Linked DNA regions of Homo sapiens. The protein of the gene in region 1 interacts with the protein of each later gene in a biochemical or structural test. Each region holds a gene or a part of one and is shown in the gene's direction. Other genes may lie near its edges.

Region 1 (7,919 bases):
GCAATGGCACAATCTCGGCTCACTGCAGCCTTTGCCTCCTTGGCTCAAGCCATCCTTACACCTCAGCCTCCTGAATAGCCGGGACTACAGGCACATGCCATCATACCTGGCTAATTTTTGTATTTTTTGTAGAGACAGGTTTTTGCCATGTTGTCCAGGCTAGGTTTTTGCCATGTTGTCCAGGCTGGCCTTGAATTCCAAACTCAAGCAATCCACCCGGCTCAGCCTCCCAAAGTGCTGGGATTACAGGCATGAGCCACCATGCCCAGCTGTAGATTTTTATTGAAGTATAAAATACATACAGAAAATCTGCTGAAAGTACTATGTGTATGTCTCATTGATTTTTAAAAGTGAATATATCCACGTAACCAGTATCCAGATCAGGAAACAGAACATTAGCAGCTTCAGTGGTTTTCCTCATGCCACCCACTCCATTCTAGTCACTACACCTTCCAAGGCTAATCAATATCCTGACTTCTAACATTATAGAGTAGTTTTGCCTGTTTGTGAACTTTACTTGAATACAATTATACAGTATGTGCTCTTTTGTGTCTGATTTCCTTCGCTCAACATTATATTGTAAGATCCATTCCTGTTGCTGCTTGTAGTTGCAAATTGTTCACTCTCATTGCTGTGGTTATCACAATCAATTCAACTGTTAACAGGCAGCTGAATGGTGCTGCTGTGAACTTTCTAGAGCCTATCTCTGTGTGTACACATGTACTCATTTTTGTTGGGTATAACCTATAATTGAAATTGTTGATCATAAGGTATGTATGATGGTTGGCTTTAGTAGGTACTGCCTTGGCTTCATTTTATAGATGATGGGAAAAATAAATGCAGAAAGGGAAGAGATTTACCCAAGATCACCTGGCTGCTAAGCTAAGATTGGAACCTGAGTTTATTCTCTTCCAGTGCATTTGTCTAGGCCCCAATTTCAAGAAGAGGCAGCCTAGAGATTCAGCAGAGTCTTACGTATCACACATTTAATTGATGATCTGTCCTTAGAATCAAATCCCTTGGGTAAGATGAAAACAATGACCGAGCATGAGAGGAGGTGCTGTTCAGTGGGGACATAATTGTAAATACCAATTTAGAGTGGAGGGAGCTGGTACAAGGTCTTCCCATCCTATCAAAGAATAGCATGCAGCATGTCTCTAAGTAAGATTTAGATTCAGCCTACTTCAGTGCCAGGCCCTGTAGATGGTGCTTTCCCACAGATTATCTCATTTACTCTTCTAAACAAAAACCAGATCAATTCACATTCTTAAGGATTCTAAAAGCATTATATCAAATGAGAGTAGATGAACTCTCTAAGTAAACACGAGCAATGTAGAACAGTGCTTCTTAATCTGCTAAAGGACCAATTCATCATAGAGCAATATTTTTGTAAATAAAAATAAAAAATTACTAGAAAAATAGAATGAAAAGATATTCAAAATATAAGCTTCTGATTATTGTTAGATTAAACAGACATAAAGTGTTGTTAAATTGCTATAAAAGTTTCTAAAAACTCTCAATTTCTACATTTATGTCATTGGCTAATTGTTGGGAACAGGCCCCCCAAAATCTGGCCATAAACTGGCCCCAGAACTGGCCATAAACAAAATCTCTGCAGCACTGTGACATGTTCATGATGGCCATAACGCCCACGCTGGAAGGTTGTGGGTTTACCGGAATGAGGGCAAGGAACACTTGGCCCGCCCAGGGTGGAAAACCACTTAAAGGCGTTCTTAAACCACAAACAATAGCATGAGCGATCTGTGCCTTAAGGACATGCTTCTGCTGCAGATAACTAGCCCAACCCATCCCTTTATTTCGGCCTATCCCTTTGTTTCCCATAAGGGATACTTTTAGTTAATCTAATATCTATAGAAACAATGCTAATGACTGGCTGGCTTGCTGTTAATAAATACGTAGGTAAATCTCTTTTCGAGGCTTTCAGCTCTGAAGACTGTGAGACCCCTGATTTCCCACTTCACACCTCTATATTTCTGTGTGTGTGTCTTTAATTCCTCTAGCGCCGCTGGGTTAGGGTCTCCCCGACCAAGCTGGTCTTGGCAGCTAATAATGGTATCCAGATCAATACTGGTTTGCAGACTACACTGTGAGTAGCACTGATTTATAATTCACCACCCATTCCCACTGGCCTTTCCAGAAAGATTGATAATGATCTTACCAGTAGAAATGCTTGAATAACAAGGTATCAGCATAATATTGAGACCCTGGCAACCATTCCCACCAATGCAGGTTACTGCATACATTAACAGGACTTTATCGTTCCCCTGTCTTCCAAAAATTTCTTGCCCAGGAAGATAAAAAGCTATGAATAACTTTCTTGTTCTTTTCAAGAACTCCCCACCAAATCTCATTGAAATGAACATAAACCCATTAGACTTTTCAATAGATAGCATTAAAAAGACTATTTACTCTCCAAGACTCTTGGAAAGCTTTGCCTAGGGTCTACCAGTCCTTATCTATTATATCATGATCCTTAGTCAAACTTAATCAAGCACCATCCCACTGGAAGGCCTGTCTTCATCAAGATTCCAAAACCTTATAAATATCCCTTCCCCTACTCCAAGATGCTACTGAGACTCTGCCAAGGCAGGGCTCTCCTTATCATGGTGTACAAAAAATTCAGCTTTGCCTTCTTCCACAGCTTATTTTGCTGATATTTTCTGGGAGCTAGCATTCAACAATCAAGACTTTACTCCTCCTTTTAGCCTTGCTCAGTGGTTTTCCAAGTTTAACGAACATAACAATTACTGAGGAGTATTATATATGCAAAAGCATGCATGGGCAACTGAAGGAATCTCCATGGGTAATTTTGATTATGGCACATTTAGGACTAAGCCTTGCATACAGATATTAGCAATTTTTGAAAGAATAAAGAACCACAGACTGTTAAGAGCTGAAAGTAGCCCTAAATGGCAAGACATCAGGGTGTGAATCAGCTATTAATACATCGAAATCACCTGATGTAGTCTGTTTAAAAAACACCTATCCCTTGGTTTCACCTGAGATCGACTGAATCAGAATTTCTGGAGATGGGGCCTGTGAATGCAACAAACTTCTAAGCGACTGTGATGCACGATCGAGTTTGAAAACCACTGTTCTGTGCCAACCATTTCATTTTGTAGATGAGGAAATGGAGACTCAGAAAAGGGAGTAAACCTTTCCAAGATCACACCGCTATTGAGCTACGTGTCTCTTAATTCCCTGACAAGAGCTCTCGGGGCTGGAGATACGCTTTTGGAGATGTCCTATATCTGATATCCTGAACAAAAATGATTAATGATGTAATCAAAACACACTTATATTTTGGCTTCTCACCATCCCTTTAAGATTTATTGTCTAGGAGGAGTTGTAGTAATCTTCCCAGGCTAGCAGACATCATGACTTTTCTGCTGTTAAGTAAGAGGCACCAACTAAAGCAGATTTTTTTTTTTTTTAAAAAAGGTAAAATTAAGACTCTTAAGATAAAATGAACCTATACGGTGTTGAGAATCTGTTGACTATCTTTTTGTTAAATTTTAGTTCTACTCAGAAACTGTTGCTTGTCACTTTATTTAGTTTAAGGAACTGTGGATGGGTTAATAAAAGGCTGAGTAACATCTCCTGGGAAGAAGCACAGCTGGCCCTGGCAGGAAGTGCAAGTGGGGTCTGGGAAAAGATTCAAGGTCCAAGCAGCTACTCCCCACGGTTTCCATTACTCAGACCACGTGGCTTCTTGAGCACACTTCTTTGCTCCATTCTTTGGTTTCCCTACTCCTCAGCATGCACGTGGCTAGAAACAGCCACCCTAGTTTTGATTGCGAATGATCATCAGTCACGAGCACAACTTCTGACAACAGTCTCTCCAGCTTAGTGCAGTCTTAACTGGGGCCAGCTGATCGTCTGCTCTTCAGTAAAGCAGTAGCGCCCTTTGGATTAGGTGTTCACCCAGGTTCAATCAGCTGTGGCCTAGAAGGGGCCACAAGGAGGAAACACAGTTGCCAAGGTGCTGTGAGTCTGTGTGTGAGAGACAGACAGAAGGACAAAGAGCCAGAGTGAGAACTTGAGATGGGTAAGCTCAATAACACGTGCCTTTTAATCATTTCCAGTATGAGTCCTTCAAACACTGTGCTTTGTATGACTCCCCTGTTATCTCAAATGAGTCTGGTTGTCACTCTCTTGCTTTTATTTAGGCAGGATAAATTTTGCGGGAAGTCCTGTAGGAGCTCATGGTTGTGCTTTTCCCATTCATGTTTCCACCACCACGTGGGATCTTCCTTTGTATAAGCTGCTGGAAACACGGATGTCTTACAAGAATAAGAAGCCTCGGCTTTACCCTTGTGCACTCCAAGCTTCTCAGTCTTGGATGGGAGTAGAGACGAGGAGGTTGACGGTCATGGATAGGTTCAGGAGTGATTGGTTCTGCCCACTTTGGTGGGGCCTGGACACATTTTGGTTCACTGCAATAATTTCTTCCAGGAGCTGCAGTCTTGTGGGCGCAAGACGTGGGCCTGATAACCCCACAGGCAGTAGTGCTGGGGCAGAGCGAGCTCACCAGCCGCCGGCTGGAAGACCCCGGGAGAGTAGCAGGGTTGGGTTGGTTCTCAGATGTGTTTTGCGCCAGGCTGTGTGGTGGGGACAGAGCCTGGGTAAATGAAGCTTTCCGGCTCGACCGCTCCCAACCTGGGCACACACGTCCTCCTGTCCTGCAAGGGGCAGTTTTGGGGCATCCTCCCTGCTTGGGGCAACCCAGGGGCGCAAGGCGCGGCCCCGGGAGCGCAGCTCCTTCCAGGGCAGAGGGCGGCGCGAGGGAGGGAGCGAGGGAGGGAGCGAGGGAAGGGAAAGGCGAGCGTGAGCTGCCTCAAATGCTTGGAATAATTCCGCTTCCGTTTGGAAAGCCGCAGCCTCAGTCCCGCCGCCGCCCGCTGCGTCCGCCCAGCGCCAGCTCCGCGTCCCGACCGGCCCGCGGCAGCCTGCGCCGCGCCATGGCCACCTCCCCGCAGAAGTCGCCTTCTGTCCCCAAGTCTCCCACTCCCAAGTCGCCCCCGTCCCGCAAGAAAGATGATTCCTTCTTGGGGAAACTCGGAGGGACCCTGGCCCGGAGGAAGAAAGCCAAGGAGGGTGAGTGCGGCCAGGCCGGCCGGGCGGGCGGTAGGAGCCGGGGGTGCCGTAGGGGCCGAGGGGCCGGGGCACTGGGACCGGGCGGGAGCGCGCCGCGGGTGCCCGGCGCGGTGGGGCGCGCGGCGATGCGTGCGCGCGCTTCCCGGGTACGTCGGGCAGGAGCGACGCGCACCCCACACTGAGCCCGGGGCTCGCGGGCCATCGAGGCCACCCCGCCCGCTCGCGGTCGCCCGGGCGCTGCCCTCCTGGGCCGGGGACCAGGCCAACGCCCCCGCCGGGCCGTGGGCGGGCGCCGCTTGGCGGCCGGAGGCGGCGGGACCGGAGCCCAGGCGGGGCCCCAGCCCGCAGACAGTGCGATCCAGTAGGCCCTGCCCCGCCCTCTGCGCCCGAAGGCTGGCATTTCCCAAGTTTCCGCTGCAGCTTTCCTGGGCGCCGTCGCTCTTACTCGTTGCCTTCATTGGTCCTTAAAATCAGGTCGTTTCCTGGACCTGCTGACGTCCTCTGGCAGCGGCGTCGTGGCTTTGGCCTCTTCGGGATCTTTTGTCCATCCCGAGGGCTGAGAAGGGCTCTGTTAATGGAGTAGGTGGACATCGAGTGTTTGTTGAATGAATGAGCGAAAAACTGGCAAACCTAGCGTGCCCTCGGTGTAATACACAATAAACTCCCACCAAAGGAGAAAACCTGCGTGAGACACAAACTTCGTCATGGGCCTGCTGTGAACTCAGGCATTCAGGGCTTTCGTAAAAACCTTTGTTTTTTCCCCACCAGAGTGAATTGAGGCGACCTTATTCTTTTTTTTTTTTTTTTTTTTCAGGGTAGTTTGCATGTAAAATATTTTTTTTTCCCATGCACAGATTTTGCGTCCTGGTTTTTGGTTTGAAAACGAGGTGGCAGTTCTCAAGAAGCACTGTGGTGACTGGTGTGTAGATAGAAGTTGCTGAGTTAAACATTTTTGTTTTAAACATTTTTTAGTTGATGCATGATGTACATAGTTCTGGGGCACATGTGATAATGTAATACATTCATATAATTTGTAAAGATCAAATTGCACAGGAAAGGGGTCCCAGTCCAGACCCCAAGAGAGGGTTCTTGGATCTCACGCAAGAAAGAATTCAGGGTGAGTCCACACAGTAAAGTGAAAGCAAGTTTATTAAGAAAGTAGAGGAATAAAAGAATGGCCACTCCATAGACAGAGCAGCCTGGGGCTGCTGGTTGCCCATTTTTATGGTTATTTCTTGATGGTATGCTAAACAAGGGGTGGATTATTCATGTCTCCTCTTTTTAGACCATATAGGGTAACTTCCGGACGTTGCCGTGGCATGTGTAAACTGTCCTGGCGCTGCTGGGAGTGTATCAGTGAGGACGACCAGAGGTCACTCTTGTCGCCATTTTGGTTTTGGTGGGTTTTAGCCGACTTCTTTACTGCGACCTGTTTTATCAGCAAGGTCTTTATGACCTGTATCTTGTGCCCACATCCTATCTCATCCTGTAAGTTAGAATGCCTTAACCTTCTGGGAATGCAGCCCAGTAGGTCTCACTCAGCCTTGTTTTACCTGGCCCCATTCAAGATGGAGTTGCTCTGGTTCACATGCCTCGGACAAAATCACTGTACTTGGGATATCCATCACGTTAAAGATTTGTCTTTTCTCTATGCTAGACCACTGGAATTCTAGATATTTTGAAATATACAAGAGGTTATTGTAAAATATAGTTAGTTTACCAATCTAACACTAGGTCTTCTTATATCAAATGGTATATTTGTAACCATTAATCAACTTCTCTTCCCCCCTAAAAAATGTTTTTAATAGATTGCTCCATGAATTAGAAATAACCTTTTGAAAGCTGTGATGCTGTGTGAAATTTTCATGTTTGTAAGTCATCTTAAAGTATAAAAACATCTTCAGCGCTGAGGATTATCAGACTTGATGAAGAACTAGACTTCTATTCCCTAGATTGAAACGAGAAGCAGCAAAAACATACAAAAGTTTCCCCACATTGGTTATTTTGGTAACCCATCGAGTAGTGTACAGTTGGTGGCAAATCATGAAACCCTGGCTTGGGAAGCTCTTTTCTAGACCATGTTTCTAACTTCTTCCTTGCAGCATTCCTGACATAGTCTCATCCAGTTTAAGATGGGGCAACTGAGAAATATTGAAGCTCATGACCTACCAGGATAACCATCTTTACCTACTCTGTAGAAATTTATCTCTCTGTACCTATCACTGTTGGTAGAGCCAGAGAATGAGTCTGGGGTGGCCTTTTATTACTACCTTGCTGAAGTAGGCTATCCTGCTTTCTAGAGTCTTCTCTCCACCAGGCCCAACATCCTCTATTCCTCACAGACATAATTTTAAGGACTTTTGCATCCTGTCTCTTTAGTTTCAGACAGGGTCCCTGCAGGAAAAAGAAGGCCAATTTAGTTGAGATTTTGAAAATAATTTAGTGAAAGGGCTATTGACAGAGCTGTGGGCAGGGTTAAGGGAACTAAGAAGGGATGCTGAGGTCCCTAGGGGCTAGCAACAGGAGGAAGCTCTTAATCACTCCGAGGCCTGAGGGACAAGGGAAGCAAATTGGAACCTATTACAAGCTGGGGTTATGGACGAGGGGCTGCTGGACTGGAACTATAGTCATAGAGGGATGCAGCTACTGTCCGAAATATGCAGACAGAGCAAGGAGAGAGTGGCACAATAAATGCACATTCTGCATGTTCTCTGTCTTCTTGCCCGTGCATCACCTACTGGTGCTGAACCCAGTGGGAAGCCATCAGAGCAAGGGATCTGCAATAGATAGGGGCAGCGTCC
Region 2 (6,957 bases), on another chromosome or scaffold:
GCTGCCATTTTGTATGTGCCAAGGACTCAATGCAAATAAAAATATATTTTAGGTGTCTGTTGCCGTTTTGAAGTCATCAGACTTCTAGCAGGTTTATAAGCTGAAAACTTAATAGAGAACTTTATATTGGGTAAATATTTATCAAAATCATCAATCAGGAAAAAAAAATCCACTTCTTTTCTCCTTCAAGCAGCTTTCTTATTCTACCTAAATTAACTCTATAGAATTTTTAGCAAAAAGGTGCTAGAGGAAAAAATCATTTGTGTTTAACAAGTTAAAGCAGCAGAGACTTTCAAAGTTCTCTACTCATTTATTTCCCTTTTGTGTTCAGTGAATACGGAATATGGCCACATCTCTCATTCAGTCTAATCTACCCATACCCCAGACATGACATGACTTACTTTTTTTTTTTTTTTTTTTTAACTGAGACAGGGTCTTGCTCTGTCACCCAGGTTAGAGTGCAGTGGTGCAATCATGGCTTACTGCAGCCTGGATCTCCCAGGCTCAAGCGATCCTCCCACCTCAGCCTCCCAAGTAGCTAGGATCACAGGCACATACCACCACACCCAGCTAATTTCTATTATTTTAAAAATTTTTTTCTTCAACTTTTATTTTAAGTTCAGGGGTACATGTGCAGGTTTGTTACGTAGTAAACATGTGCCATGGTGGTTTGCTGCACAGATCATCGCATAATTTTTATGATTTTTTGTTTTTTGGTGGAGATGTGGGTCTCCTTATGCCGCCTGAGCTGGTCTTAAACTCCTGGGCTCGAGCAATCCTACTGTCTTGGCCTCCTAGGTGTTGAGATTACAGGCCTGAACCACCACACCCAGTTGATTTACCTTTTTGAAGGTACTAGTTCAAAGGTGAGTTTATCAGTGTATGGGTAATTGACAACAGATTTTTTTTTCAATATTTGCAACTTGAATGTATAAGATTTCAAAGTCAAGAAATAGAGCTTCTCTTTATCTTCCACCCTTCTGCTACCTGAAGCGCAACTATCTGCTAACTAAAAAAAATATATTAATACCTTAAAACAGTTCTCTAGAAACCTCAGGTTATTATAAGAAACTATGAAGCTCTTATCCAATGTTTCAAATTCCATCTCAAAAATCACCTCCTTTCTGAAGCCTTTTCTCATATTCCCTGCCACTCCAAACACCTGGCAGAAGTAGACACATTCTTCTGTATTCCTTAGCATCCCTCCTATCATCTGAAGACAAAGTGCGTGCCCAGTTAATCTGAGTATTTTCAACATATATTACGATGTCTAGCTCACAGTAATACAGTGACTAGCAAATAAATAATCCATTGCTGATTAATATGTATGAATTAATTAAATAACAGACTCAGTGAATTGATTCTGCTTGTTTTTTAAGGGGGCAAAGGGTGTGCTTTTTTTAATATATATGTACAAAATTTTGAAGTTCAGAATACACTTTTTAACCCACTTCTAACCCAGGACCTTGGGGGATGGGTTGGACCTGTGTCACACAAACGACAGTAACCGTGTAATAAGTAAAACATAAAGTTAAATTAAAAGCCTAGGACAGCCGGCCATGGTGACTCACACCTGCAATCCCAACAATTTAGGAGGCTAAGATGGGAGGATGGCTTGAGCCCAGGAGTTCAAGACCAGCTCAGGCAGCTAAATTTAAAAATTAGCCAGGCACGGTGGTTCACACCTGTAGTCCCAGCTTGGGAGCCTGAGACATCAAGGCTGCAGTGAGCCATGATCATGCCACTGCACTCTGACCTGGGGGAGAGCAAGACCCTTTCTCAAAAAAAAAAAAAAAAAAAAAAGCCTAGGACACATAATATGGATAAAACTCACAAACATAATGTTGAACACAAGAAGCCAGACACAAAATAGTGCACATGGTCTGATTCCATTTATATAAAGTACAAAGACAGGCAAAACCCTTCTGAGGAGTTAGAAGATAAGATAATGGTTATCCTGGGCCTGGGGTCGGGGGTAGGGGCAGGCAGCGGCAGTGATCATAACTGAAAGGAATAACTAAAAGGGGTCACTAACGGGCTTCCGAGGACTGGTGATGTCCTGTTTCTTCAACTGGGCACTCTTTATACGCTAGTGTCTTTATATACTCTGTATACAGGTGTGTTCAGTTTGCGAAAACTCATCAGCTATACATTCACGATTTGTGCTCTTATCTATATATATTGTGTATATGTATGGGTGTGTATATATATGATACACATTTATATACACACAAGTCACTACATAAAATTACAAGTTTAAAAATTAACCTAGGCCAAGAAGAACGCTTAAAACCAGTCGAATTCTTTAGCACAATGCAGATATTTTCAATTGAAAAGAGAAAAACCATATTGGTATGAATAGATAGAGCCATAATTCAAGGTCACACATAAAATCTTGACCACAGGCTGGGCACGGTGGATCACACCTGTAATCTTAACACTTTGGGAGGCCGAGGCAGGTAGATCACAAGGTCAAGAGATCAAGACCATCCTGGCCAACATCATGAAACCTGGTCTCTACTAAAAATACAAAAATTGTAGTCCCAGCTGCTCGGGAGACTGAGGCAGGAGAATCACTTGAACCCGGGAGGCGGAGGGTGCAGCAGTGAGCCAAGATCGTGCCACTGCACTCCTGCCTGGGGACAGAACAAGACTCCATCTCAAAAAAATATATGTGTGTGTGTGTGTGTGTGTGTGTGTGTGTGTGTGTTTGTGCGCGCGCGCGCGCGCGCACTGACCACAGTCTAAGTTCTAATGGGCCATAAGCAGGGTTTCATGATGTTAAGAGGTAGGGAAGTGGGACCAGATGACCCTTCCCATCGTTGACAAACGCTACCAAGTGAAGACATTCTGTTTCAAGTTTTTAATGATTTTATTTCAATTATAATATCCTATATTTGCCAACAATGTTCAACTAACCTTTTTAAATTAAATGTACTTTCAAACCCATAATAATTCCTGAATATGGTAATGTTTAAGCGAAAACAGATTCAACTTCTAAATTTTATAACTTCTTTATTAAAATTTAAGTGTTCACAAGCCTTTTAATGCAAATCGCTAAAGCCTGTACTATATTGCATGAAATCCCTCCGTGGAAGAGCACGCATTCTATCTCTGTACCTATTTCACAGATGAGGAAACTGTCATTTCCATGTCTGTTTTATTAACCACTGTATTCTCTGAGCCCAGGCCCATTGGGAGGCCTGTAGAGCAGTAAGCACTCAACAAATGTGATTAAATGAACAAAGGAGGCTTGGAGAGGTTGTGTAAACTGCCCAGGTCACCCACCCTTCCTGGGTGGCCCCAGCCCTCTTTGAAAATAAATCCAACAGGAAGGCGACTGGCGGGACCGGTGGTGATCCTGAGGTGAGCCATACCAGGTGTGGCCCAGACTTCCGCATGCAGCCTGCCCTTGGGTCTCCTGGAGTCTCCCCTGGTCGGGAGCCTCAGCCTTCTGGAGACTGACACCACCCTCTTACTCAGAGACGAATCGTTTTGTCGTTGCCTTCACCTCCCTGACCACAAGTGCTCCGGGGCTCTTTCTGAGGGAGGCAGCTGTTCTAGGCGGGAGGCTGGAGTCTCCTGGGCCTGGACGCACCCCGGGGTGTGAGTGATGGGTATGCCTGAAAGGAGGGGAAGTGGCGCGGCTTTAATCATCTGGGCTAGTCCCCGGCGGGCCTGGGGGAACAGGGAAACTGGAGGCGGCCTTAAAGCGTCAGGATGAGACATCGCAAGAGGAGCTGCAGATACTGAGCGTGCGCCCCGGGTTCTCGCCGCCTTCTCTCCGCCGAGCAGCCCTTCGGCCACCCTTTGCCCTTAAAAATCTGCAGACTGCGCCTCCTCTCCGCGGGAGCGAGACCTAGCAGGCCCGGGGCTGGGCGTGCCCTCGCCTGCCACGCTGCGCGCTGCCCTCAGCCGGGCCGCTGGGGCCGTGCAGTGCACCGGGCACGCCGCGCCAGGCTGGGGGCAGGCACCGAGCCTCCGTGGGAGGTCCCGAGGCAGCTTCGCCTGCTCGCCCTGGCTCCAGCCCTCACCTGCCGCAGCCTTAGCTGAGCAGCCGCCGCCACTGGGCGCCCCCCGCTCCCCACTTCGCCAGCGCCCGCTCCTCGGCTCGGCCCGGGGTAGTTTGTAGGGACGCAGCTCTCCACGTGCGCGACTGCGAGGCTGGACGCTACGGGCTCCTGGAAAGGAGGTGGGTGCTCCGGAGCTAGGGCTGGGGAGCTAGAGGTTGGGAGGCTTTCATGGGCACCAGTGGCTCCTGAGCCCCCTTAGCCCCTTTCTTTCTGCAGCCTCTTGTACTTAAATAGCTGTTGATTGAAAATAATTTCGTCTGGATGTGACCACCTTCTCCGGCCCTACGCATCTGGCCGCAAAATAAACTTTCAGTTCAGCCGCAGGTGCTGCCTTAATGGGAGTAAGGGGCATGCTTTATCCACCCAACATCCGCCCCAGGATCCTGCAGAGCTGGCAAAAGACAGGTCGGGTGGCCTTCGAACACCAAGCACCTTCAGATATTCCAGGGGAAGGGTCGGGGACTGTTTCCCCCTCATCTTTCCTCCTTCCTGCTCTCCATCCCTCCATGCTTTCGTTTCTTTGACTGTCTGCGAAGGGCTTTTCAGCACTCTGCCAGTAACTTTGCTTCTTGTTTTGGTCTCCTTAGATGCGTTTTCCCGGCTGAAGTTTGCTGCTATCCTTGACAAGTAACAGCTTGCTGCAGACTAGACGTTCACTCAAAAATGAAGGCACAGAAAGATAGGAAAGGAATGCAGGAAAACCAGCTTGGCTAATTTTAGCCTGCATTTTGTTGTAAGGGGAATCAGCATCTATTGCCTGAATGAGTAGTGTTTTGATCACCCAAGTTAGGAAAAGACCTTATATCAGATTGCCCAGTGAAATAAGCAGTAAGGAATCACCTTTAAAAGTTATTTTCTTTATATACAAAACATTTTAAATAACTAGACTTCACAATTATAGCATTTAAGAAATTGTAAGGATCTTAAAGTCGAACAGTTCAATGCCAAGTTATGAGTTTGACGATGAAGGGGCATCTTTTGTCTCCTCACTGCGCAAGATTTGTGTTGATAGAAATGCTTAGTAAAGGCTACTGAGAATTTAGTTCACGTAGTTTGAGGAGTTTTCTTTCATTTTGGCATTGCAACATTATCAAAGTGGTTTCCCAGTGTGGTGAATAAGAGTTTGAAATAGAAAGGCAGACCTGGATTTCCACCTGGGCTCCAGCATCTAACTTGCTGTGTGACCTCAGGCAACTTGCTTCATCTCTCTGAGGCTGAGTTTCCTCATTTCTAAATGAGATTGCTGAGAGGATGAAAAAGGGATAACAGAAGACAGGAGTTAACACAGAGCACATCATACAGTCAGTAGGTAATAAATGATACCTGAAGCTGATGATGACAGAGGCAAGCAGTTAGGCCTAATGCAGTCACTGAGTGGCACTCCTCATGCAGAGGGTTCTGTGTGGATCTCTGTGCATGGGGAGGAGATGCATTGCATCGTTGCATGCTTCTGACTATAGAAACATAAGGAACGGCTGGGCGTGGTGGCCCACGCCTGTAATGCCAGCACTTTGGGAGGCCAAGGCAGGTGGATCACGAGATCAGGAGTTCAAGACCAGCCTGGCCAGCATGGTGAAACCCTGTCTCTACTAAAAATACAAAAATTAACCGGGCGTGGTGGCACACGCCTGTAATCTCAGCTACTTGGGAGGCTGAGGCAGAGAATTGCTTGAACCCGGGAGGCAGAGGTTGCAGTGAGCTAAGATCATGCCACTGCACTCCAGCCTGGGTGACAGAGCAAGACTCCATCTCAAAAAAAACAAAAACAAAACAAAAACATAAGGAGCTACTTCTGAACTCTTGAATTTCATCCTCACCCATAAAATCTGTCCTAAATCTGTTCAGATTTGCAGTATTCAATTTATCTGTGTAGCGTATTTTGAGATTCTCTTATGCTTACAAATGAGTCGTTTCGAATGAACATGCAGAACAGATATGACACTGGTTGTTTAATTATTATTAAAAGTAATGTTCCTCGGATATTACCATCATCCCTGGTTTAATATTGATCTAAATAGGTTGAAGGGAAGAACTGAGTATACCCACAGACCAGCAACATCTGGAGCCTGTTAAGAAATGTATGGCCCCTCCCTAGACCTGCTGAATAGAATCTGCATTTTAATAGGATCCCTGGGGGATTTGTGTACACCCTCAGAGAAGCCCTTTCTTAGGAGTTTGAGTGCATTGATGTTTCTTAAAAATAGGCCTTATGAAAACATGAATTTCTCATAAGCTGGCTTTACATAGTAAAGTGAAAAAGACTCATTATCATTTAAATAATTTTTACTTTAAATGTTTAAAACAGCCAGGAGCAGTAGCATTATTTCTTTCTGTTTAAAAGTAAGAGAGAACTGACATCTCAAGTTTTGTTTCAGTTCTGCCAATTTGGATTCCAGTGTTCCAGTTACCCCCTGAAACATTTCAGTTGTGAACGTTCTTTCCTGCTAGCTTCTCCCATGAGGGGAAAACGATGGGTTTGAAATTCACATCCCTATCTGTACTTTGAAGAGTGAGCTTTTTATATCTGTTACTCCTGTTTTTAAATCTTTTGCCAAAGATGTATCCAAATTTTTAATTGGTGCATTTATAATCAATTTTTATATGACATAGAACAATAAGTAAATCGAATACATGGCAATAATTATTAATGACCTGTATCTATATGTATTTAAGGTAAAACTATATATTATAATGACTGAAATAGGAATTATTTTGCTTTTTTTTATTTTTTGAGCTTTATTATGGGAAGATATACATTTTTGTAGGAGGAATGTAATAATATACATATATTAAAGATATTAAAGATAAGAGGCTTTAATGGCATCCTTTTTAAACATCAACTTTATTGAAGTATAATTTGCATACAACAAAATATGTTGAACTA
Region 3 (7,024 bases), on another chromosome or scaffold:
GTGGCCTTGAAGCAGTTATGAACAGAAGACACCAGAGCATTCACTTACATTTTCAAACTCCAGACTGTCTGATATCCTTCTTAATCTGTTGGACGGTATATGAATACCAAAAGCATTATATTTTAAGGTGATTTTCCCAGATAATGTTCAGTAGCAGCAATTATTTCCCTGAAGTCGATAGATCTCAGGATGACCTATTCCCTCAACATTGTATTAAAATTGTGTGTGTGCACATGTGGAAGTTTCTAGGAAGAGGCTTCTTCACTTTAATTTCTCAAAGAGGTCTGTAACAAAAGAAGTCATGACACAATTTTATGGTTTGGCCCTTGTGTGTCAGGTTCATCTTGAAGCTAGGGTTCATCCCAGAGTGCGGCATTTTAATTAAGCACGACATAAGTGTAAATAATGTTTCCTTAATATGTGTCAGTAATATCTTTGTGTTTAGTTAGACTTTTATTATAAATAACGTGTACACTTTGCTTAAGGCCATTAAAACACAATTTTTAGAATTTTGACTTTAATTCAAAGATCTGAAAAGTCTCATTTATTTATTTATTTATTTATTTTTTACTTTTTGAGACGGGAGTCTCACTCTGTCGCCCAGACTGGAGTGCAGTAGCGCGATCCCGGCTCACTGCAAGCTCCGCCTCCTGGGTTCACGCCATTCTCCTGCCTCAGCCTCCCGAGTAGCTGGGACTACAGACACCCGCCACCATGCCTGGCTAATTATTTGTGTTTTTAGTAGAGACGGGGTTTCACCGTGTTAACCGGGATGGTCTTGATCTCCTAACCTCGTCATCCGCCTGCCTTGGCCTCCCAAAGTGTTGAGATTGCAGACGTGAGCCACCACGCCCATCCTAGGTCTCTTTTAAATCTCAGTATAAAACACATTTGTCATTTGCTATTAATCTTTTAAAAGAAAGCAAAAGCATATGTCATGAAGTGGGCTTTGGGGAATTATATCGTAATGTGACAAAGTTTTTGCATTTGTGACTTAGTCTAGGCTGATACTTCATAAATAATTGATCCCCTCAGTGTTTATACTTCATCCAGAAAGTGAAAAACACCCTAAAATCCAGTTTAGGTTGGGTACGGTGGCTCACATCTGTAATCCCAGCAGGCAGGGAGGCTGAGGCAGGTGGATCACCTGAGGTCAGGACTTCGAGACCAGCCTGACCAACATGGAGAAACCCCATCTCTACTAAAAATACAAAAATTAGCTGGATGTGGTGGCATGTGCCTGGAATCTCAGCTGCTTGGGAGGCTGAGGCAGGAGAATCACTTGAACCTGGGAGGCGGAGGTTGCAGTGAGCCAAAATCACACCACCCAGCCTAAGCGACAGAGCAAGACTCCGCCTCAAAAAAAAAAAGAATTGTGAAAATTTAGTACTGTTTGGTTTGGTTTGAGGCAAGGTCTTGCACTGTCACCCAGGCTGGAGTGAGTGTGTGTTCATGGCTCTTTGCATCCTCAAACTTCTGGGCTCAAGTAATCCTCTTGCCTTAGCTTCCTGAGTAGCTGGAACTACAGGCACGCACCACCACATCTTGCTGACTTTTAAAATTTTTCGTAGAGATGGGTCTTGCTTTGTTGCCCAGGCTGGTCTTGAACTCCTGGCCTCAAGCAGTCCTTCCACCTTGGCCTCCCAAAGTGTTGGGATTACAGATGTGAGCTGCCATGCCTGTTTTTTTTTTTTTAATCAAAGACAAATTTCAAACGTGTATAGTGTTTTTTAAAAGAAAAATTTTAAATATGAAATATCAGGGATAAGGATTATAAAAACAAGACATCAAAATAAAATTGTCTTCAAAAATAAATTTTGTCAAGAAGAGGCCCAATTTTATGGGATTCCTCTGGAGGTCATTGAGAAGTATTAAATCCTTGGCTGGGCACGGTGGCTCATGCCTCTAATCCCAGCACTTTGGGAGGCCAAGGCGGGCAGATCAGAAGGTTAGGAGCTCGAGACCAGCCTGGCCAATATGGTGAAACCCCGCCTCTACTAAAAATGCAAAAATTAGCCGGGTATGGTGATGGGCACCTGTAGTCCCAGCTACTCGGGAGGCTGAGACAGGAGAATCGCTCGAACCCAGGAGGCGGAGGTTGCAATGAGCCGAGATAGTGCCACTGCACTCCAGCCTGGCAGACGCTAAATACCAAGTGGATCTGTTCACTGAGTTTTAGTATCACTTTTTAAAATGTCTTTTTAAAACTTATGTGTACAATTAAATTTCCACCTTTCTATAAAAATTCATTTTAAACGGAGAATAAGGAATTTATTATAATCTGGAGCTCACTGAATGGAAATCTCCAGCCAGCTCTGTGAGCAGAGAGGAAAAAATAGGTGATCTCTAAGTTTCCTCTAGCTCTGATTCTATGAGTAGAGAGAATGTAGAAGTTGGGTTAGATCAAGTCACACAATCTACAAGGGAAAAAAATGCAAATTGGAAGACTCAGGAGTAACTAAAAAGAAACATATGAAGTTGCTTTAGAAAGATTGAGGATTAGGCCGGGAGTGGTGGCTCACGCCTGTAATACTAGCACCTTGGGAGTCTGAGGCAGGTGGATCACCTGAGGTCAGGAGTTCTAGACCAGCCTGGCCAACATGGTGAAATCCCCGTCTCTACCAAAATTACAAAAAAAAAATTAGCCAGGCATGGTAGCGGGCGCCTGTAATCCCAGCTACTCAGGCTGAGCCAGGAGAATCGCTTGAACCTGGGAGGCGGATGTTGCAATGAGCTGAGATCACACCACTGCACTCCAGCCTGGGTGATGAGCGAGATTCCGTCCCCCCGCCCCCAACCCACAAAAAAAAAACAACAACAAAAAAACATAGAACAATTGAGGATTGGCTGGGTGCGGTAACTTACGCCTGTAATCCTAGCACTTTGGGAGGCCGAGGCTCAGAAGTTGTTTGCTTGAGCTAGGAGTTTGAGACCAGCCGGGCAACATGGTGAAATCCCGTTTCTACAGAAAAACAGAAAATACAAAAATTAGCCAGGCGTGATGGCACGCACCTGTAGTCCCAGCTACTCGGGAGGCTGAGACAGGAGGATTGCCTGAAGCTGGGAGTTTGCAGCTGCAGTGAGCTGTGATTACACCCCAGCACTCCATTCCTGGGCAACAGAGCAAGACTCTGTCTCCAAAAAAAAAAGAAAAAGAAAATCTGAGGATTATATTTCTGAACGTGGCCTTTAGAAAGAAGTCCTTGCTTTAAAAGTGTGTCATGTTCTTGCCATATAATAATGAAAAAAGTTCATTTATGTTGGAGTTGCATGTTAGGATCAAGTTAGATTGTGAACTTAGCACATGTGACCAAAAAAAGAAATAGATTTTAATAAAGTTACCACTAAAAATCCCTTAACGTGATCATTAAGTATGGTATACGTTCATTGCATCTCACAGAAGTGGAAAATAGCTAGTTTTTCCTCTAGGAACTCCAAAAATAAGTTTCATTAATTGAGCACCAGATGAAGAAACTGGCTTACATGAGGGGCTTCGTTACACAAAAAAATACTTTAAACACTAGGATTAGAGCTTGGCAAGATGCACACTGGGAAAGAGGCATACGTAACTGGACAGCTCCCTTATACCCTGGCTTAGTGCTCCCTGGGGAAGGTGTGTGCTTATTTGGTGGAATGGTGCCTATGCAGTTGAAATCCTTAGTTTTTCCCCTTGAGGGCTCACAACTGAATTCATGGAAATTAATGCCTACATGATGCATCCTCATTGCATTCATAGTGAAATACATTAACATTATAAGAAATTTTTTTAAATCTTGGGGGTGGAGTAGGAAACAATGTTAAAATCTTATTAAAGTGAATTAAGTTTTGGTTAAATCTGATAGTAAGTTTACTCAGTGTTTAAAACACTGTTCATGATCCATAGGAAGTGAATTAAATTGTATCAGTTTCTTAGCAAATTTTAAGTTCTTTAAAAGTGGAGGACAGTACTCAAGTTTTACTGTAATCCTGTGACAGCTAATAAAGTATGAGCTATTCCTTAGAGTATGTGCTATTTGCTGCCTTTTGTTTTTGTTTTGCTGCTATGTTTTATACCCAGTTTTTTAAAGTAAAAAACTGTTTGTTTCCAACTAGAGTTAACTTATTTATAGAGATGCTAAAAATATGTTTATTCAATTACTTATAAAAGGCCTTGTTGGAAATGTCTAATCGCTCGCTATTGAAGAGAATGGAAAGAAAATATGTAAAATTTTACCTGTTATCTTTGGCTCTTAATTTTTAAAAGTTTCAAACATCTAAGTTCAAGAGTAATTGAGTGAACACTGCGTAATCTTCATCTAGACACCAGTTAGTATTTTGCCATTTGAATTTTCTATACACACAAACATACACATGTTGGGGAGCAGTTGGATGAAGTTTCAGACTTACTCATAACCTTTGATTCCTAAATATTTAAATATGTATCACCTAAGAACAAGAAACTTCTCTTGCATAATTACAGTATAGTGATCACATTCAGGAAATTCAACATTGATTCACTTCTGTCATCTAATATGCATCCATTTTCAAAATTTGCCAGTTGTCCCAATAATGGCCTTTGTTTTTTTCCCATCCAGAATCTCATTTCGCATTTAGTTGAAAGGGCCTCTTAATCTCCTTTGATATACAGAACAGCCACCAAGTGTGGAGCTACAGGAGATTATATAATAAATGGCTTATTGACATTACATTAAGATACATGTAAAATGATAGTATCTGTTTGTAAACTTTATGGCCACCCTGTAGAACAGTTCCTCAGCCTTGGTCTTTTAAGACATTGTTTAACCTTTTTAAAATAAGGTTCTTAGTATCAGTGCAAATTTCACTTCAGAGTGATTTTTTTTTCTTTTGAGACAGAGTTTTGCTCTTGTCACCCAGGCTGGAGTGCAGTGGCACGATTTCAGTCCACTGCAACCTCCGCCTCCCAAGTTCAAGTGATTCTCCTGCCTCAGCCTCCCAAGTAGCTGGGATTACAGGCACCCGCCACCACGCTAATTTTTGTATTTTTAATAGAGATGGGATTTCACCATGTTGGCGAGGCTGGTCTTGAACTCCTGACCTTAGGCGATCCGCCCACCTCGGCCTCCCAAGGTGCTGGGATTACAGGCATCAGCCACCACGCCTGGCCAAGAGTGATATTTTTATAGGTTCTTTTTCACATACTTTATTTTTAAAATTTAGTTTACTTCTTAGCTTACTATTAAATAAGCTGTTAATAATAGTTTTAGACATCATTGGATGTAGGTTTCCCATAATGTCAGCTGTTCTCAGACTGTAGTAGGTGCTGATGGAGGCACAGATTATTAAGAAATAACAGGTTGCCTAGTGTGTCAGAAGATCTGGATTCAACTTCTGGCTCTGTCTGCTACTTTACTGGTTAGTATGACCTTTGGACAATGAATCCAACCTGAGTGGGTTTTGACTTCTATAAAATAGAAATTGAAAAAAATTTTCTTGGGGCGGGCGGGGTGGCTCACGCCTGTAATCCTAGCACTTTGGGAGGCCGAGGCAGGTGGCTCACGAGGTCAGGAGATCAAGACCATCCTGGCTAACACGATGAAACCCCGTCTCTACTGAAAATACAAAAAATTAGCTGGGCGTGGTGGTGGGCGCCTGTAGTTGCAGCTACTCGGGAGGCTGAGGCTGGAGAATGGTGTGAACCCAGAAGGGGGAGCTTGCAGTGAGCCGGGATCGCGCCACTGCACTCCAGCCTGGGTGACAGAGCAAGACTCCATCTCAAAAAAAAAAAAAAGAAAAAGAAAAACATTTTCTCACAGGTTTTGGTGAGAATTAAATGAGATAATACATATATATTGATACTACATGTATATATACTTTATATAAACTATTTGTGTTATGCAAATGAGAGTGGATACTTCTCTGTGGCATTGAGTCTCTGAGTATATGAAAGTAGGAAGGAAAAAAAGGAAAAGTAGGTTAAAATATAATCTAGTATATTTAATAAGTTCCAGCTTTACTGGTGGGGAATTGCACTCCTCAAAAAAAGCTTAGTTTAGGATTGCTTTCTGTTCCCACCCTCTAAACAACAAGAAAAAATAGCTGTCATTTTACTTTCCCGCCAACTTCCAAACACACACCTGCCTCTGCAGTGTAAGAGAGCTATTTAAGTACCATTTTAATAAGATTTCTGAAATGCAGGGGACCAATAAGTGGATGATGGTATTCCAGGTATTTGAAAAATCTAAAACCATGAAAGCATCAGTAGTAAATTAATTCTCTACTTAATATATTCTATAAGAGCAGTGTTTTTAGTTCATTTATAGCAAAGGCACATGAAAACATTGGGCCTATTTAGAAACTAATGAAAGTAGTTTCAGAAAAAAGCTAATGTATGCAGTATTCCTATTTAAATAATTATTTTACTGACAAATTAATGCTTATGCCATGGAACATTTAAAATTGGTATATATGCCCAGTGAGAAGTAAACAAATACATCTGAAAGTGTATTTTTAAATAATTCTTTTATTTTGTAATTAAGAAGTGTGACTTCTGCACTTGGGTTTGTGGTTACAAATTCATATTCGTTATAATTCATTCTTTAACAAATTAGTTGCATAATTACTATATAATTGTTTTTCCTGTTAATTTTTTTTCTTAGTGTCAGGCTCATTGAGGTCTGATTGACATATAGTAAAATTTATCCTTCTTAGTATAATATTCTGAGTTTTGACATGTAAAACTACCACAGTCAAGATAGAAAACTTTTACAGTACTCCCAAAAGTTTCCTTTGTAACCGTCTCATCGCCTCAAACCCAGATCCTAAAAACCAGTGATAATTTGCCTTTTCTAGAATGGCCTGCAAATGGAACCATTCAGTTCTAGCTCTTTGAATCTGGTTTCTTTCACTTAGCATAATACATGTTAGCTTCGTTCATGTGTTTGTATCAATAGTTTTTTATCACTGAGTAGTAGTCCATTGAATGGATTATTTCACAGTTTGTCCATTTAGCAATTGAAGGGCATTTGGGTTACTCCCAGTTTTAGGAGATGATGAATAAGGCTGC
Region 4 (7,024 bases), about 52 Mb from region 1:
GTGGGGTTGGGGGCTGGCTGAGGTGGGTGGGATGCAGTGGGAATCAGAAAACTCACCGGGAGGACCTGGGAGGAACTCAGGAAACAGGGCTTTGCAAACTCTCAAGGGCTGTGTGCCCAGAGCAGCTTTCCGGCAGCCTTTTTCCTATGCTCTCTCCCACCTGTTCATGCTCCTGGAGGGAGGAGGCGGGGAGACCTGTGCCTTCCATTACTGTAACTCCAGTTCCCAGCTGGCTGACAAGGGACAGACGCACATCTCTAATTCAATGCTCACTCATGGATCGTCATGTGCGTGCACAAGTTTGCTGCAAACCCTGCAGCTACCACATGGGAGGCCTTGTTCCGTGTCCCAGTTTGTAAGATCGTTATTGTATCTTACAGGGAAACTGAGGCCCAGTGAGGTTAAGTGGCTTGTCCAAGGTCACACAGCTAATAGCTAAAAATATTGAGTGCTCACTGCTCCAGGCCAGGCACAGGTCCAGGCCCTGAGGACATACAACGGTGAGACAGACGTAGTCTCTGCCTCCAGGAGCTCCCCAGAATGCAAGACAGAGGCTGTTAAACCGTGGATTATGGGAGGACAGAGGGGGCGTCATGTGGAGGGAGCCCAGTGGGCTGGAATGCAAGAGATGGGGCGCTAAGATTGGGGCACTCAGATGCTGGGTTGGAGAGCTCCCCTGGGAAGCGATATAGAAGCCAAGCCTAGAAGGCCAAATCAGGGGCTGCCTGCAGAGAGCCCTGCTGCTGTTACCATGGGGTAGACCCCAGGCCCGCCCAGGCTGCCCCACTCTTGGCTTAGGCAGGGCAGGGGAGTGGTCGCCCCAGGCTTCTGAATCCTGGGGTTGTGCTGGGTGTTGGGGGCACCAGGGAGGAAGGTTGGACCCAGATGTGCCCCCGTGCCCCACAGATCGCAAGCAGGACTGGTCAGACCATGCTATTTGGTGGGAACAGAAGAGGCAGTGGCTGCTGCAGACCCACTGGACACTGGACAAGTACGGGATCCTGGCCGACGCACGCCTCTTCTTTGGGCCCCAGCACCGGCCCGTCATCCTTCGGTTGCCCAACCGCCGCGCACTGCGCCTCCGTGCCAGCTTCTCCCAGCCCCTCTTCCAGGCTGTGGCTGCCATCTGCCGCCTCCTCAGTAAGTTGCCCGGCTGATTCCCCTGGCCCACGAGGGTGATGCAAAGAGGCAGGTTCCCCCGTTTCCAGGCCCAGCTCTGTTGACGCTGTCCTTGCTGTCTGGGTTGCCACCCTGCCTGCAGGGCTGTGACCCGCCCCAAGCACCCATGGGTGAGGTGGGGAGGCTGCAGCAGGACCTAGTCCCCGCTGAGACCCTAGCTCCCCTCAGGCATCCGGCACCCCGAGGAGCTGTCCCTGCTCCGGGCTCCTGAGAAGAAGGAGAAGAAGAAGAAAGAGAAGGAGCCAGAGGAAGAGCTCTATGACTTGAGCAAGGTTGTCTTGGCTGGGGGTGAGTGCAAGTGGGGGTGGGCCTGGGGGGTTGGGGGCAGGGGCCGGCCCGTGAGTCCCAGCCCTGGGGGACAGGCCTGGTTGACTCCCAACCTGCACTCCAGGCGTGGCACCTGCACTGTTCCGGGGGATGCCAGCTCACTTCTCGGACAGCGCCCAGACTGAGGCCTGCTACCACATGCTGAGCCGGCCCCAGCCGCCACCCGACCCCCTCCTGCTCCAGCGTCTGCCACGGCCCAGCTCCCTGTCAGACAAGACCCAGCTCCACAGCAGGTGCACCCAGGAGCCACGCCCCCTGTGTCAGGGCTCCCCCACCCAGGATCCACCCCCTGTCCCGTGTCTGTGCCCACCCCAGATCCACACTTCGTTTCCAGGCCTTTTCTCTGTGTGTGCTTGTCCCCCCAGCCCAGCCCCCCTCCCCACCCCACGGCCGTACCTGGCGCAGCCCTGACTGCTGCTTCTGCCGCGGCCCAGGTGGCTGGACTCGTCGCGGTGTCTCATGCAGCAGGGCATCAAGGCCGGGGACGCACTCTGGCTGCGCTTCAAGTACTACAGCTTCTTCGATTTGGATCCCAAGGTGGGTCGGGGCAGGGAGAAAGCGGGCCTCAGGTCCATGAGATGTGGAGACCTAGGGCCTGGGGTATGGGCTCTGGGATGTTAGTGACTTGTAGTGGCCTGTCCGTCTGCCCGTTTGTCCATCCACACCTTTGTTTACTGACCCCACAAACACCCACTGAAACTCATCTACTCACCTCAGCATCAGGCCAGGTCCTGGGCCCCGGGCAGATGCTGAAGCGGATGAAGACCAGTAAGTCTCAGTGCCTGTTTCCCAGGGAGCTGTCAGGGAGGAAGCTAAGACCCACAGATCCTCATAGACAGTGTGTGTGTGGGTGCCCCTGAGAAGTCTGGGGCTCAGGTGGGAGAGGCCCAAGCCTGGGAGCTCTGGGAAGGCTTCCTGGAGGGGGCACCATTAGGGACTGCAGGACCTGGGGGTGGGTGAGGAAGGAAGCTTTGCAGGGTGGCCCCTCTGTGCCCTGTTCACTCTTCCTCCCTTCCTCCATTGGCAACCAACATGCTCCAGGCAAAATGCTCCATGCAATGTGCTTCGCGCACATCTCAAAAACTTCCCAGAAGTCCACAGGTTGCTCTTTCTACCTGTAGGCCCCACCTCTCTGCCCCCTTTCTCTGCAAAACATCGTAGTTGTCTGAACGCTTGCTCCGCAGAATCCCACTTCTTGCTTCCAAGCTTTCTCTGGGTGCTGTTCGACTCCCTCTCACTCCTTGGCCATGGCTATTCTATATATTTTGACACCATCCACACGTGAGAAGTGCACCTGCTGAGGTGGCCACGTCTCCAGGCTATCTGTTCCCTGGCCATGTCCCACCCGCTTCTTACTTGACCACTTACTTGCAGCATAGACACCACCCCGACCACTCCTCCAGAATATCTTCCTCCTGAAGCCTCCTGTACACTTGCTTGGGGGGTGGCCTCTCCCCAAGCCACTCTGCCAGGCTCTGTGATGTTCCCTCCTCCTCTCCATGGCCTCTCGGTGTTGGTGAGCCCCAGGCTCTGCCCCAGGCTCTGCTCTGGGCCTCTGCTCTCTCCTCTCCTTCTCTCAGTCATCTCCAGTCTTGTGGATTTCAATACCATCTCCACACTCTCTCCCAGCTGATCATCTCCAGCTCAGATGTCTCTCTCCTAAGCTTTATTTATTTATATATTTATTTATTTTTATTTTTTGAGACACAGTCTTGCTCTGTTGTCCAGACTGGAGGGCAGTAGTGTTATCCCGGCTAACTGCAGCCTGGACCTCCCAGGGTCATGTGATCCTTAAGCCTCAGCTCCCCAAGTAGCTGGGACGATAGGCGTGTACTATACCTGGCTAATTTTTTTTTTTTTTTTGACATGGAGTCTTGCTCTGTTGCCCAAGCTAGAGTGCAGTGGTGCAATCTCGGCTCACTGCAACCTCTTCCTCCTGGGTTCAAGCAATTCTCCTGGGATTACAGGTGTGGGCCTGGCTAATTTTTGTATTTTTTTAGTAGAGATGGAGTTTCACCATATTGGTCAGGCTGGTCTCGAACTCCTGACCTCAGGTGATCCACCTGCCTCAGCCTCCCAAAGTGCTGGGGTTATAGGAGTGTATTTTTTTAGTAGAGATGGAGTTTCACCATATTGGTCAGGCTGGTCTCGAACTCCTGACCTCAGGTGATCCACCCGCCTCAGCCTCCCAAATTGCTGGGGTAATAGGAGTGTATTTTTTTAGTAGAGATGGAGTTTCACCATATTGGTCAGGCTGGTCTCGAACTCCTGACCTCAGGTGATCCACCCGCCTCAGCCTCCCAAAGTGCTGGGGTTATAGGAGCGAGCCACTGCGCCTGGCCTAATTTTTTTTTTTTTTTTTTTGAGATGGAGTCTTGCTCTTGTTGCCCAGGCTGGAGTGCAATGACGTGATCTCAGGTCATCACAACCTCCGCCTCCTGGGTTCAAGCAGTTCTCCTGCCTCAGCCTCCCGAGTAGCTGGGATTACAGGCGTTGAGCCACCATGCCCAGCTAATTTTGTATTTTTAGTAGAGATGGACGGGGTTTCTCCATGTTGGTCAGACTGGTCTCGAACTCCTGACCTCAGGTGATTTGCCCACTTTGGCCTCCCAAAGTGCTGGGATTACAGGCGTGAGCCACGGCGTCGGGCCAGCTGTGCCTTTTTATTCTAGTGTTTTCTTCTCTATGACATATTTCCACTTCTTTGTTTTGCCATTTCACACATTATCTATTGACTTTGTAAGAAGGTTTCACTGTCTTACATTCTCTTCCCTGCCCACACAATACACACATTTCCTTGCCTCTTTCTAAGTGAGTAGTGTCTGTAGTCTTTGGTTAAAACAATGTGATATGGCTGTAAATAGTAACACATATAAATAGTGTTCCTAGTTAAGCCACAGAGTAACTATGATTATTTTTTCCCTTTTTGCTCAAATGGTTTTGAAGTTCATAATTGCCTTTTTTTTTTTTTTTTTTGAGATGAGTTTTGCTCTTGTTGCCCAGGCTGGAGTACAATGGCACAATCTCAGCTCACTGCAACCTCCACCTCGCGGATTCAAGCGATCTCCTGCTTCAGCCTCCCAAGTAGCTGGGACTGCAGGCACGCGCCACCATGCCCAGCTAACTGTATTTATTTATCTATTTTTGTTGTTGAGATGGAGTCTCGCTCTTGTTGCCCAGGCTAGAGTGCAATGGTGTGATCTTGGCTCACTGCAACCTCCGCCTCCCGGATTCAAGCGATTCTCCTGCCTCAGCCTCCCTAGTAGCTGGGATTACAGGCGCCCACCACCACGCCTGGCTAATTTTTTGTATTTTTAGTAGAGATGGGGTTTCACCATGTTGGTCAGGCTGGTCTCAAACTCCTGCCCTCAGGCGATCCACCTGCCTCAACCTCCCAATATGCTGGGATTACAGGCGTGAGCCACCATGCCTGGCCTACACTTTTCTTTCTTATTTTTCGGTTCTTTTTCTTTCTGTGTCCTACTCTCCGGAGACCTCTTCAACTTATCTTCTAAAATATCTATTGAATTTTTAATTTCTGTAACTATATTTTTAAGTTCCAAGAGCTCTTGTTTTTTGAGTGTTCTTTTATAGGGTTTTTTTTTTTTTGAGAGGGAGTTTCATTCTTGTTGCCCAGGCTGGAGTGCAATGGCGTGATCTCGGCCCACTGCAACCTCTGCCTCCTGGGTTCACGCGATTCTCCTGCCTCAGCCTCCCACATAGCTGGGATTACAGATGCCCACCGCCACCATGCCCAGCTAATTTCTTCTTGTATTTTGAGTAGAGATGGGATTTCACCATGTTGGCCAAGCTGGTCTCGAACTCCTGACCTCAGGTGATCCACCTGCCTTGGCCTCCCAAAGTGCTGGGATTACAGGCATGAGCCACCACGCCCGGCTCAGCTTATTTTTAACAAATGTGTATGGTTGTGCAACCATCACCACAATCCAGTTTTAGAACATTTCCACTGCCCCAGACAAGCACTGATTGCACGATGCCCATTTGCAGTCATTCCTCCTCCCACACCCCGACCACCACTGATCTGCTTTCCATGTGGCTTTAATTTACATTTCCCTGATGACTAATAAAGTTGAGTCCCTTTTCATAAGGCTATTAGCCATCTGGATATCCTGCTTTGTGAGGTTTCTGTTCAAACATTTTGACAATTGTCATATTGAGTCGTTTGTCTTTTTCTTATTGATTTGTAGGAGTTCTTTATATATTCTGGATATGAGCACTTTGCCAGATAAATACATTGTGAATATATTTTCCCCCTCTGTGCTTTGCCTTTTAATTGTCTGAATGGTTTCTTTTCATAAACAGCAGCTCTTTATTTTAATAGAACCAAATTTATATTTTTATCTTTCTTTTTTTATTTTTAGAGATGGGGTCTCGCTCTGTCACCCAGACTAGAGTGCAGTGGTGCGATCATAGCTCACTGCAACCTTGAACTCCTGGGCTCAAGCAATCTTCCTGCCTTAGCTTCCTGAGTGGCTGGGGCTACAGGCATGTGCCACAAGCCTGGCTAATTCTTTAAAAATTGTTTAGAGATGGAGTTTTGCTACGTTGCCCAGATTGGGTCTCAAGTTATCCTCCCGCTTCGGCTTCCTGAGAAGTTGGGATTTTTTTTTTTTTTTTAGACGGAGTCTCACTCTGTCACACTCAGGCTGGAGTGCAGTGGTACGATCTCGGCTTACTGCAACCTCCGCCTCCCGGGTTCAAGAGATTCCCCTGCCTCAGCCTCCTGAGTAGCTGGGATTATAGGCATCTGCCACCACACCCAACTAATTTTTGTATTTTTAGTAAAGACAGGATTTCACTATGTTGGTCAGGCTGGTCTCACACTCCTGACCTCAAATGATCCGCCCGCCTCGGCCTCCCAAAGTGCTAGGATTACACGCGTGAGCCACTGCGCCCAGTTACATTCCTTTAAAAAAAGAATATTCTGGTCTTGATTTATGAGTGCAGTGCTTTAGCTCTGTAAGGATTTTTTTTTTTTTTTTTGAGATGGAGTCTTCTTCTGTCACCCAGGCTGGAGTGCAATGGCAAGATCTCGGCTCACTGCAACCTCTGCCCCCCTGGTTCAAGCCATTCTCCTGCCTCAGCCTTCCGAGCAGCTGGGATTACAGGCATGCACCACCACGCCTGGCCTAATTATTTTTGTATTTTTAGTAGAGACGGGGTTTCACCACATTGGCCAGGCTGGTCTCAAACTCCTGACCTCGTGATCTGCCCGCTTCAGCCTCCCAAAGTGCTGGGATTACAGGCGTGAGCCACCGGGCCCAGCCTCTATAAGGATTTTTTCGCCGGGCGCGGTGGCTCACGCCTGTAATCCCAGCACTTTGGGAGGCCAAGGAGGGCGGACCATGAGGTCAGGAGATCGAGACCATCCTGGCTAACACGGTGAAACCCTGTCTCTACTAAAAATACAAAAAATTAGCCGGGCGTGGTGGTGGGCGCCTGTAGTCCCAGCTACTTGGGAGGCTGAGGCAAGAGAATGGCGTGAACCTGGGAGGCG

Evidence for each region.
Region 2: the proteins of PARVA (region 1) and FERMT1 form a complex in vitro, tested with the Homo sapiens proteins (one study listed by BioGRID).
Region 3: the proteins of PARVA (region 1) and FERMT2 form a complex in vitro, tested with the Homo sapiens proteins (one study listed by BioGRID).
Region 4: the proteins of PARVA (region 1) and FERMT3 form a complex in vitro, tested with the Homo sapiens proteins (one study listed by BioGRID).

The regions. Positions count from the first base shown.
Region 1 is NC_000011.10:12,372,666-12,380,584, forward strand, and holds the start of PARVA (alpha-parvin), read left to right. Parts: upstream 1-4,905; 5' UTR 4,906-4,982; coding exon 4,983-5,118; intron 5,119-7,919. UniProt on the Homo sapiens protein: Plays a role in sarcomere organization and in smooth muscle cell contraction. Required for normal development of the embryonic cardiovascular system, and for normal septation of the heart outflow tract.
Region 2 is NC_000020.11:6,120,009-6,126,965, reverse strand, and holds the start of FERMT1 (fermitin family homolog 1), read left to right. Parts: upstream 1-3,935; 5' UTR 3,936-4,192; intron 4,193-6,957. UniProt on the Homo sapiens protein: Involved in cell adhesion. Contributes to integrin activation. When coexpressed with talin, potentiates activation of ITGA2B. Required for normal keratinocyte proliferation.
Region 3 is NC_000014.9:52,941,032-52,948,055, reverse strand, and holds part of FERMT2 (fermitin family homolog 2), read left to right. Parts: intron 1-7,024. UniProt on the Homo sapiens protein: Scaffolding protein that enhances integrin activation mediated by TLN1 and/or TLN2, but activates integrins only weakly by itself. Binds to membranes enriched in phosphoinositides.
Region 4 is NC_000011.10:64,209,705-64,216,728, forward strand, and holds part of FERMT3 (fermitin family homolog 3 short isoform), read left to right. Parts: intron 1-906; coding exon 907-1,140; intron 1,141-1,347; coding exon 1,348-1,467; intron 1,468-1,570; coding exon 1,571-1,739; intron 1,740-1,940; coding exon 1,941-2,043; intron 2,044-7,024. UniProt on the Homo sapiens protein: Plays a central role in cell adhesion in hematopoietic cells. Acts by activating the integrin beta-1-3 (ITGB1, ITGB2 and ITGB3). Required for integrin-mediated platelet adhesion and leukocyte adhesion to endothelial cells.